Homo sapiens: one gene and its partners. The protein of the gene in region 3 purifies or fractionates together with the protein of the main gene of each other region. This does not show direct contact. Each region holds a gene or a part of one and is shown on either strand. Other genes may lie near its edges.

The links.
Region 1: the proteins of SNX33 (region 3) and ANKRD54 purify together in Homo sapiens (affinity purification with mass spectrometry; 2 studies listed by BioGRID and IntAct, with this or other methods). This does not show direct contact.
Region 2: the proteins of SNX33 (region 3) and BIN3 purify together in Homo sapiens (affinity purification with mass spectrometry; one large-scale study listed by BioGRID and IntAct). This does not show direct contact.

What each region holds. Positions count from the first base shown.
Region 1 is NC_000022.11:37,842,222-37,845,967, reverse strand, and holds the start of ANKRD54 (ankyrin repeat domain-containing protein 54), read left to right. Parts: upstream 1-1,633; 5' UTR 1,634-1,729; coding exon 1,730-2,057; intron 2,058-2,119; exon of another isoform or gene 2,120-2,351; intron 2,352-3,746. UniProt on the Homo sapiens protein: Plays an important role in regulating intracellular signaling events associated with erythroid terminal differentiation.
Region 2 is NC_000008.11:22,624,080-22,627,725, forward strand, and holds part of BIN3 (bridging integrator 3), read right to left. Parts: intron 1,334-3,646; coding exon of another isoform or gene 1,222-1,333; exon of another isoform or gene 291-1,221; intron 285-290; coding exon 143-284; intron 1-142. UniProt on the Homo sapiens protein: Involved in cytokinesis and septation where it has a role in the localization of F-actin.
Region 3 is NC_000015.10:75,650,812-75,654,457, reverse strand, and holds part of SNX33 (sorting nexin-33), read right to left. Parts: intron 1-3,646. UniProt on the Homo sapiens protein: Plays a role in the reorganization of the cytoskeleton, endocytosis and cellular vesicle trafficking via its interactions with membranes, WASL, DNM1 and DNM2. Acts both during interphase and at the end of mitotic cell divisions.

The DNA of each region.
Region 1 (3,746 bases), on a different chromosome or scaffold from region 3:
CTCCTGACCTCGTGATCTGCCTGCCTCAGCCTCCCAAAATGCTGGGATTACAGGCGTGAGCCACAGCGCCAGGCCTTTTTTTTGTTTTTGTTTCTTTCTGAGATGGAGTCTCGCTCTGTCACCCAGGCTGGAGTGCCATGGTGCGATCTCAGCTCACCGCAACCTCTGCCTCCCAGGTTCAAGCTACTCTCCTGCCTCAGTGTCCTGAATAGCTGGGATTACAGGCGTGCGCCACCACACCCAGCTAATTTTTGTATTTTTAGTAGAAACGAGGTTTCATCATGTTGGCCAGGCTTGTCTTGAACTCCCGACCTTGTCATCTGCCCATTTTGGCCTCCCAAAGTGCTGGGATTACAGGCGTGACCCACCGTGCGGAAAGATTACATTTTAACTGGGTTGAGTGGGAGGGTTTATATATGGAAAGAACTTTTGCCAGGACACAAGACCTGGTCCGGTGAGAGCTGGGCAACTGTGAATGAGTCTCTTCCCTCTGCTTTTCAACTCCTCACCTATAAAATAGGGATGGTCCTTCTTGTCTACTTTATAGAAGTGCTTGTGGGGTACGGGATTGTGAGAAGTTTTATGAAAACGTGCACCCATGAAATGTTGCTTGAGGAACACTTATTTGTTTCCTGGTCTTCTCCCATTGGATTGTGAGCATCTCAGGGGCACCAAGTCTGATCCTGTGTCCAGGACCTAGCAGTTACCTGGCTCAGTGACTGGCTGTCGAACTAAACTATTGCTCTAATGTAATCACTTTGTATTACAAATCTTTGTAGATCAGTCATCTACGTCGGGGTTACCTAGAGAACTCTGACTAAAGGAAATCCATTGCATTTAGACACTATTACTCACAGTTTGTAGTGGTATCTCCAAATTTCAACACATTTTCCCTTTCCCACGTACATTATGCATTTGTGGGAAGTTCTTTTTTTTTTTTTTTTTTGCGTTCATTGATTTACAACATCTATATCTACATGGATGGCGTGGCTTCTTCATTTTCCTTTGTGAGTGCCTGCAAATCATCTTAATCTGATTTGCTAAGGTATCTGCTTGTTTTCTCATTAGACTGGGAAATGGAGAGGAAAAAGAAAAAAAAAGGCCGGGCGCGGTGGCTCACGCCTGTAATCCCAGCACTTTGGGAGGCCGAGGCCGGCACATCTCGAGATCAAGAGATCGAGACCATCCTGGCCAACATGGTGAAACCCCGTCTCTACTAAAAATACAAAAATTAGCTGGGCGTGGTGGCGCGCGCCTGTAGTCCCAGCTACTCGGGAGGCTGAGGCAGGAGAATTGCTTCAAGGAGGCGGAGGTTGCAGTGAGCCGAGATCGCGAGCCTGGCGGCAGAGCGAGACTCCGTCGCAAAAAAAAAGCGTCTGAAATGCTGTTTTACTGGCTCCGGTAGCGACGTACAGCGAAAGCCAAGGTCACTTCAAGTTTGTAATTGGTTACAATGTCTGTCAGTCACGTTGCCGGAAACCCTGTCCAATTATCCTGCTTGTACTGTGCCCTCCCTTTCCGATTGGTTTTGGGACCGGTTTAAGCTGGAAGGGTAGTCATTGGTTCGCCGCTCTGTCTCGGCCTGAGCCCGCCCCCGCTCGGTTGCCGTGGTTGCGGGCCCTGCCCGCCCGCCAGCTCGCTGACAGCACGACTCAGGGCGGAGGGAAGTAGGTCCGTTGGTCGGTCGGGAACGAGGCTCAGGCGGCCAGGCCCGCGCGGAGCCGTTGCCATGGCAGCCGCCGCCGGGGACGCGGACGACGAGCCGCGCTCAGGCCACTCGAGCTCGGAGGGCGAGTGCGCGGTGGCGCCGGAGCCGCTGACTGACGCTGAGGGCCTCTTCTCCTTCGCTGACTTCGGGTCTGCGCTGGGCGGCGGCGGCGCGGGCCTCTCGGGCCGGGCGTCCGGCGGGGCCCAGTCGCCGCTGCGCTACTTGCACGTCCTGTGGCAGCAGGATGCGGAGCCGCGCGACGAGCTGCGCTGCAAGATACCCGCTGGCCGGCTGAGGCGCGCTGCCAGGCCCCACCGGCGGCTCGGGCCCACGGGCAAGGAGGTGCACGGTGAGCGGCGCGAGCGGCGCGGGGGCCCGGGGCGGGGCAGCCCGGGCGAGGGGCGGGGCCTCAGAGGACCAGTGGCCGCGCTTTGGTCGCCCCCGACCCTCAGCCGGGGTCCCCCGACGTCTGCGCTGAGGGCCACACTGACCCTTGAGTCTCCTTTCAGTAACGATGGTGATGATGGTTTTTTTAGAAAGTCTTCCTGCTCTGAGCCAGTCACCCCAGTCTTCTCTCACTGGGTAATTTCTGAATGGAAACTTCCCATGACTCGGAACGCTTATTGGTGAATAATAAAATGAGGTACTGGGGAACACTTTTATTATCATGGAGAGGGGAGGCCAGAGCCTGCAGCCAAGTCGTACCAGCTTGTTTAAATGCACGGACTTGGACTCCTTTACCACAGTTAGACCTTAGGGCAAATGATAGACCCTTTCAACCTTAGTTTTCTTTTTAAATTTTTTTATTTTTATTTATTTATTATTATTATCTTTTTGGAGACGGAGTCTCGCTCTGTTGCCCAGGCTGGAGTGCAGTGGCGCCATCTTGGTTCACTGCAACCTCCGCCCCCCGGGTTCAAGCGATTCTCCTGCCTCAGCCTCCCGAGTAGCTGGGGTTACAGGCGCCCACTACCAAGCCCGGCTAATTATTGTAATTTTAGTAAAGATGGGGTTTCACCATGTTTGCCAGGCTGGTCTCGAACTTCTGATCTCAGGTGATCCACCCACCTCGGCCTCCCAAAGTACTGGCATAACAGGCATGAGCCACTGGCCCGGCCTCAGCCCTAGTTTTCTCATCTGTAAAATGGGATGAGTTAAGTAAGGTAATGGATGTTTAGCTGTTATGCTGCCTTTGCTGTGCCCCAAACACTGCTGATACATGATCATCTGTCCTCACAAGAACTCTTTGAGACATAGAAATTGTTCCCACTTTACTGAAGAGGAAACTGAGGCTCAGAGAAATTGTCTTATTCCAGGTCACATAGCAAGTGGCTGTTGCTGGTATTAGAATCCGGGTCAGCCCGACTCAAACTTCTCCTCTGGTATATCTACCATATTGTCTTCTACAATGCATGGGTGACATGGAAACCCAGGCACTGAGAGATTAAGAATGGGGACTTTGGGGATTTCTTCCAGGACTGGCTATGACTCTAGCCATATTTTAGTGATGTCACGAAGATGAAATAAGAATTTGGAAGCGTTGTATTGACCATAAAGTGCTGTATGAAAGCAAGGAATTGTCATGTATCTGAATTGCAATTTTTGACCATATCTCCGATGACAAAGACATTGCTTTCCATTAGCCATTGGAGGGGGAAAATCTGCTTAGGAAATACCAAATTTAGGCAAATCATTTGGGAACGACCTGCTTTGAAGGAGAATATAAGATTATCTGTGTAACCAGCTCACAAAGAGCTTCTGTGTAAATCATTTGCAATAACTCGGGGCTGGCAGAACAACTCAGCCTTGTTTTGCAGATGATAGACCTGAGGCCCAGCTGGGTTAACTAGCTTGCTCAAGGTCACCCTGTGACTACAAGTGATAGAGAGGAAATCTGGCTCCAAAAGTCTTGGAGGATTTGCAGGAGGATGTGGCCTTTGTACTAGCTCCGCCTCATTTCAAGTTTCTCCTTGTTCCCAGGGCACTGTCTTTCTTTTCTTTTTTTGAGACGAGAGTCTCGCTTTACCACCCAGGCTGC
Region 2 (3,646 bases), on a different chromosome or scaffold from region 3:
TCTCACTGCTGGGTGCCGGATACGGGATGGGTGGGGTGGGGACGTCTGGTGTCTTGGTGCCCCCAGGTGAGGGGAGGGACTTACCACAGGTGACCACGATGGCCCACCTGTCTAGCCCCTGCCCACCTGTCTCCCCTGGTACCTGGTGGAGCTTGGCCAGCACTGGCCCCGTCTTCTCCTTTTCCTCATACTTCTCCACCTTGGCCTGCAGCCTCCTGTAGTCCTGCAAGGCCTGTTCCCGCCTCTTCACAGCCATGTTGAGGCTCGGGAAGACACTGCCGAACCTGTGGGACAAGCTGGCTGGAGATGGGCCCGTTCTTGAAGGGGTGGCCTGGCTGGAGATGGGTCTGCTCTTGGAGGGGTGGCCTGGCTGGAGATGGGTCCGCTCTTGGAGGGGCGTCCTGGCCAGCACTCACTTGTCCAAAAATGTGCCCTGAGCACCTACCAAGCGCCAGACCCTGCTCTAGGTCTTGGGGAGTTCACTGTGAACAAGACAGATGAGGCCCTGTCCCCTGGAGCTTGTGCGAACGTGGACAATGTCATGGGGTGAGGGCAGATGAGAGGAGGTGGGGTTGTGGGCCAGGTCCAGGGAGCTGGGTGGCACAGGGTGGCCCAGGAATGAAGGGTGCCCTGACCCCCACCTCCTGTGAGCTTTATCACACAACGGACTAGGGGATGGTGGGGAAGGTGCCTTGAAGTCATCTGGCCAACACCTCACTTTTAAAAAGGAGGGAAACTGAGGACAGAGAGAGATGACCTATGACTCATCCAAAGTCACGATGAGGCAGAGAAGGTCTAGAAGAGAACACAGGTGTCCACATTCTCTGTCTGGCACCCTTTCCAGCCCTCACAGTGCCACTGGCAGGTGGCAGAACTGAAATCTAAACTCACCCCTGCCCCAGGGCACCTTCTCCTTCAAGGGCTCCTTGGCAACATGAAAGCAGCAGAAATCCTCTGGCTCTGCCATTGGAACCGCCAAAGTTCCAACCAGCTGCTTCAGGAAAATGCCCTGAGGACCTCCACTGTGACTAGAAGGGACCGCGTGGGAGACTCAGAGGAGTGGCCCTCAGAGAGAGCAGCAGTGGACGATGCAACGCTGCAGGTCCACACCGGCCTCGTCTTTGTGGATCATGTGTCCTCTAGTGACCAGGAGCAGTGCTCTCCTGAGGCTCTCGCTGCTGCTGCTGGAGGGCTGGCCCTCGGTGCAATGGCAGGGGGCGTCTACCAGGCAAGCCAGAGCCCTGCAGTGTCCAGGATCAGGCTGCGCAGCCCAGGGAGCTCATGACTCTGTGGCCATTCGGAGGTGACCCAGGACCAGAAGAGTTGGTTCCTCCTGGACATTTTTATGAGGAACCCAGAGAGGAGGAAAGACGAGGGCAGGAAGCAGTTACTGAGACTGGGATCATAGGCACTCAGAGTTGAGAGGATGCTGGCAGACTCACTGTCAGGTTCCAGGAGCTCAGCTACCACACAGAGCAGGACTCCCAGATGTGCCTCTCAAAGGACATGACCAGGAATTTGGTTTTGAGACAGAGTCTTGCTCTCTCACCCAGGCTGGAGTACAGTGGTATGATCTCTGCTCACTGCAGCCTCCACCTCCTGGGTTCCAGCAATTCTCATGCCTCAGCCTCCCGAAGAGCTAGGATTACAGACGTGTGCCACTACGCCCAGCTAATTTTCGTATTTTTAGTGGAGACGGGGTTTCACCATGTTGGCCAGGCTGGTCTTGAACTCCTGACCTTGAGTAATCCACCCGCCTCAGCCTCCCAAAGTGCTGGGATTACAGGCGTAAGCCACCGTGGCCGGCCTGTTTTTAAAAAGCCTCAGCAAATCAAGTGTACATTTGAGGTAAGAGTAATGAACAGTTTTGCCAGGGAGTAAGAGGATATTAACTTTACCAAAGCATTAAATGCCCCCAAACTAAGTCAGACCCAGGGAGTAGATTTTGATGAAACAAAGGGCTTATCCCCAAGACAGGAATCCTCTACCTCAACAGTGTCCATAAGGGGCTCCCTGTCTTAACAAGGTGCTAAGTGGGTGAAGCCACCAAAGCACCCTGAATGCTCACCCGTGCCCTTAGACATAGTAATCAAACCAGCATCTGACCGACTTGCCGGGCAGAAGCCATGGGCCTCCCAGGACTGTGCACAGAGAACGCGGGCCCCTCAGCACTACGGAACTGAGGGTGGGAAGCAGACACCACCAGGATGCATAGTCGCCCATGGCGTGGGCTGGGGTGAGACTGCTGGGAGGAGCTAGACTTGATGCTTTGCCCAGGGCGGCTGCGTGGTGGAGCTGCAGCTGCTGGGGAGCCCTGCCCCCTTCCTGGGCAGCTGAGAGGCACGTGTTCAGGCAGCAGGTGCAGCTGGGCCTGAGAGGCTACCAGGCCACCTCTCCCTCAGCCCCAAATGGCCAAGGGACCACCGGCAGCTACCCTGGTCCTCGCCCTGATCCTTGTGTTAGAAGCCACCTGCTGCTTGGATGGTCCCAGTGCCTGGGCCTTGTGGGTGCCTGGGAGCTGCCGGGTAGGTGCAGGCGCTGGGACAGGGCAAGGATGAGGCAGGCAGGAGGCAGCAGGTGGAGAGCTCTCTGGCCCTGGCCCCAATCCCACCACCCTGAGCTCACATCCTCAGGAAGGAGGGCATCACAGCGTGAAGCCGTGTGTGCGCAAGGTGGCTTCCACGGTGCAGGATGGGAGGAGCCCTATGCTCGTTGCTCCAGCAGCCTGACCCCCCAACATCCCCTGAGGCACTCTCATAGCCCCCTTCCCACAGCTGTCGGCTGGGGCTTATTATTTCCTGTGCCAGAGTCAGAGCCACCAGGAGCGCTGACTACAGCGGAGTGCCGAGCGGGGGTGAGGGAGGCCGGGTTACAGAGCTCCTCGGGGGATGGCGTGGTGGTGTCTCCAGGTGGCCACCTGGCTGCATGGGCTCCTGCCAGCCCCCTGGAACCAAGACCACCTGCCTCTGCAGGCCGCCTGCCCCAGTGGGAAGAGCATGTCTTCACCATGAAAACCTCCGTTTCCCATGACAGCACCCCTTAGCCACCAAGAGGCTCTGCCTGCTCAGGCCACTGGAGGTGATTGCTGATAAATTACAACCACGGTGGGGGGAGGTTGGGTCCTGGGATTGGGATTCCCTAGGGGTAGGGACAAGTGTCACACCTTTCTACATTCAGTGGGAACTCACATCAGTCAGGGCAGGGCGCAGCTTGTGCCAAGGTGGCTGAAGAGTAGTGGACCAGGACTCTGTCACATCTGCCCTGGTCACTCACTGACCCTTTGAGGCCCCATCTCCCCGTTTTCTACTTCTTAGCAACAGAACAGACTTTGCCAAAGCCCCGGGGTGGACAGTGGATGTGCCACGGTGCTGTGTGGGATCTCAGGTCAGGGCTCAGGCTGCTGGCAGGGGAGGTGGAGACGTGCACAGGCTGGGCGCCTGTGCCAGCCCCTCCCAGATATGTCCCTGGGACCCCACAGAGGCCCTGCTGACTCTACCCAACCACACTGGGGGAGCCTGTCCCCAGGCGTGAAGCCAGGACCCAGGCTCCACTCTGCTGTTCCAGCGCACTTCACCCCTCCTCTCTCCCTGCCCACCTCAGCCCACCAAAACCTCCTCTCCCACTCCTAGGTGCTGACTGTCCCATT
Region 3 (3,646 bases):
GTTAACATCCACCCCAGGTTGGGGGCAGGAGGGAGCAGGAGGTCTGAGTCCTAGTCCTAGCTGTATCCTCTCCAGCAAGCCACTGCTCTTGCCTGGGCTCCAGGTCTCCCCACTGCCCAGTGGGACAGGTTGCACTAGATGTGATGCTGTTGACAACCTCTCACACGGTATAGTGCTTTAAGGAGTTTCCACATCTGTAAAATGGGATAATAATAGTACCTGCCCTATAGTATAGTTGAGGCTTAACTGAACTAATATGTACACAGTTCAAAGGAGCGCACCTGAGATACAATAGAAGCTCCAGATGCTACATGTTATGGCTTGAAAACTGCTTTTCTTTTCTTTTTTTTTTTTTTTTTTAATTTGAGATGGAGTCTTGTTCTGCTGCCCAAGCTGGAGTGCAGTGGCTTGATCTCGGCTCACTGCAACCTCCGCCTGCTGGGTTCAAGCAATTCTTCTGCCTCAGCCTTCCAAGTAGCTGGGATTACAGGCACCTGCCACCATGCCTGGCTATTTTTTTGTATTTTTAGTAGAGACAGGGTTTCACTATGTTAGCCAGGCTGGTGTCGAACTCCTGTGATCCGCCCACTTCGGCCTCCCAAAGTGCTGAGATTACAGGATGAGCGGTAGAGGGAAGGCTAGATGATGGCTCAGAACCCAGAGGCTGAACCCACCCATCCCCCAGGCAAGAACTTGTCCCTACAGTCGCCACTTTGCCTTGGCCACGCTGTCCCTATGGCCCCTCCATGGAAGCTCTGTGGTCCTGGGCCTCTCTCTAGCCCACAGGACCAGTGAAGGAGCACCCAAGCCTTCCTCCCTCCTCTTTCGCCTTCTGGCTCAGCTCTCCATCCCTGGGGATCCCCTCCCCCATCTGGGAGGGCACAGTGGAAACAGCCTGGGCTGCGGAGCCAGACACACTGGACTCCAGCTCCTGCTCTGAGGCTCATCTGCATCGCTGCACCTCGTCTGTAAAACGGAAGTGACCACATCGCCCTCCTGACCTGTCGTGAGCCTTAGGACCAGCCCCGCTCTTGCTGGCTGTCAAGTTGGGGGTCCATACGTCCCAGCTTGCCCTGGACAGTTACTTTCCCCTGTTGTCCCGGGATCACTATTGCTAGGGCCCCCTTTTATGCCCCAAACTGCCCTGGTTAATTATATGGTTACCCTTCTCTTAGGAGACCCCTGGATTGGGCTACAGGGACTAGGCCCGTGGGAGGACCAGGCTCCTCTCAGCTCCAGCCAGGGTTTATGTCCCATTTTATTTCATTTTATTATTTTTCTGAAAAGCATACAAATTTGTTTAATGTAAGTTTCACATGACATGGAGCCCTCCTAAGGAAATGAAGACCCTCGGGTCCCATTTTACTCACCTAGAGACTGAGGGGAGAAATCTCTCCCAAAGTCATGTCAGATGCAAAGTTTGTCCAAATCCTGGTCTCCTGACTCCCACCTAGGCCTCCACTGTCCTTCCTCCCACACACTCACCACCCATTCAGATGTCCAGACAGGCTGGACAGAATCCTGGGGGCCCAGGACCCAACTGTTCTTCTCTTTTCTTTGAGAAGGGCTCCACCCCTAAGGCCAGCATTAGGACCCCCTCCTTATCACTCCCATTGGGCTGTGGTCCCCAAAGCCTGTCCAGTTCTGTCTCAGTACCCCCTCCCTAACTTGCCCCACACCACAGGCCTGGGAGGAGCAGTGCAGAGCCCAGAACTTAGAGTAAGCCAGAGAGGGCTTGGCCCATTGGGAGGGGTCCTCCCGGGGAGGGAAGGCAGTGGGCTGGCCTCTGTTTCAGGTCAAATGCACCAGCACAGAGGACAGTGGCCTCTGACTCTTAGAAACACCTCAAGTAGAAACTCAGAAATGGCCTATCTCAGCTCTGTCTCTCTGCCCAGGGTCAGAAAGGCTGGTCTGGCTTCCCCCCAGCCTGGGAGGCCCTGGTGTCCTTCCTAGGTGTGGGGCTGCCCTAATGTCCTCAGCTCTGCTCTGGGTGGGGGGTCCCCAGCCACTGCATGGGAGCATCTGTTTAATCATTGCATTCCCCCTCCTGCTGCCTGCACAGGAACAAGCCATCTAAGGAGCTGGTTGAACCAGCCTTCCCACTTGTGCTCAGGGAGACACCTGCCCCAGTGGGCCCCCAGCAGGCCTGGCCACCTCCCCTGCCCTACTCCTGCCCCAGTGCTCAGAGCCAGAGCTAAGGTGTCATTCTGTTTCTGAGCCATACCCTCCCCAGGAGTCCCTTCCCACCCACTCCCTTGAAGGCCTGATGGCTCACTGGGACCCCATTCCCTTGTTTTACAGATCAGGAAACTAAGGCCCAGAGGGGCAAAGGCACTCCCCGGGGACGCACAGCAATCTAGGGGCAGAGCCAAGACTAGCACTCAGGTTTGTGTTTCCTGGAGTTCAGAGGAGGAGGAAGAAAGGTAGAGATGAGAGAAAAAAAAAAAAAAACAGAAAGAAAGGAAGAGGAAGAGGATATAGCAAGGGGAGAAAGGAGGCTGGGAGCTGGAGAAGTTATAGAAGTCAACCTCTTGGTAAAGGAAAGCAAGGCCAGCTTACCCCAGGCCCTCCCTGGTGGTGGTGGGTGACATGTTTCCTGTTCCCCAGGCTCAGTGCAGAGGTCTGCCCCCTGGCCCCACCCAGAGTCAAACTCCCCACCAAGCCAGGTCTAACCTCAGGGCCCAAGGGCCAGGGAGCCAGCTCCACGCCCTGCAGACGAGTTACCAAGCAGCCCCAGGGAGGATCACACCTCTCTCCTGACATCTGCCCTCCCAGCTGTGCCCAGGACTCAGGCACCTGCTGGGGCAGCCACTGGCTCTCTCCTCAGGCAAGAAGAGAAGCCAGGCTTGGGAAGCAGGAGTTGGATAGGCCATGTGGACAGTGCCCTGGACCCCTGATTCTGCACCCCTGGCCCAGCCAGAGTGCCCCTGTGTGACCCAGGATGAGTCATTTCCCCGGCAGTTCATGGACAGCCCCAGCAGTAACAGGCAGAGGCCCATCCTGTCCCTCCCCCACAGAGGGGGTCATGAGAACTGAAAACATGGCTAGGCTTGGGAAGTGGCCAACATGGACGTGTCCTTGGGGAGGTGGCAGGAGGAAGGGACAGTCCCAGCCGGGCCACAGGCTGTGCAACCACTCTTCTGTGGACACTAGCTCCTTCATCTGCAAAATGGGGACAGGGATCTTCCTGCACACAGACAAGACGCTCATAAAGAGAATACACAGTGGTGAGAGTAGCTTCCAAAGCTGCAAAGGTGGGGAGGTTAACTTGCAAGGAGCACAAGACAGGCCCCCACTCTGAGCTCTTGTTATCTGGGTTGGGTCTGTGTCTCCCAAGGGCCTACCGGCTCCTCAAGGGCAAGGCCTGGGGCCTGGTCATCTATGTGTTCTCAGAACCCAGCATGACACCATGCATGATGGGTAAACGAGATGCAAACAGAGAAAATGAATGAACTGACAAGAAGGTAAATATCAAGCTCCATGAGGACAGAGACCGGGCCTGTGCACAACAATATCCCTGCACCTAGAAGCACATTTGCCACAGACACAGAGTTGATATTCAACACATTTGTTTGTTTGTTTGTTTGTTTGTTTGTTTTAGAGACAGGGTCTCACTCTGTCACCCAGGCTGGAGTGCAGTGGCACA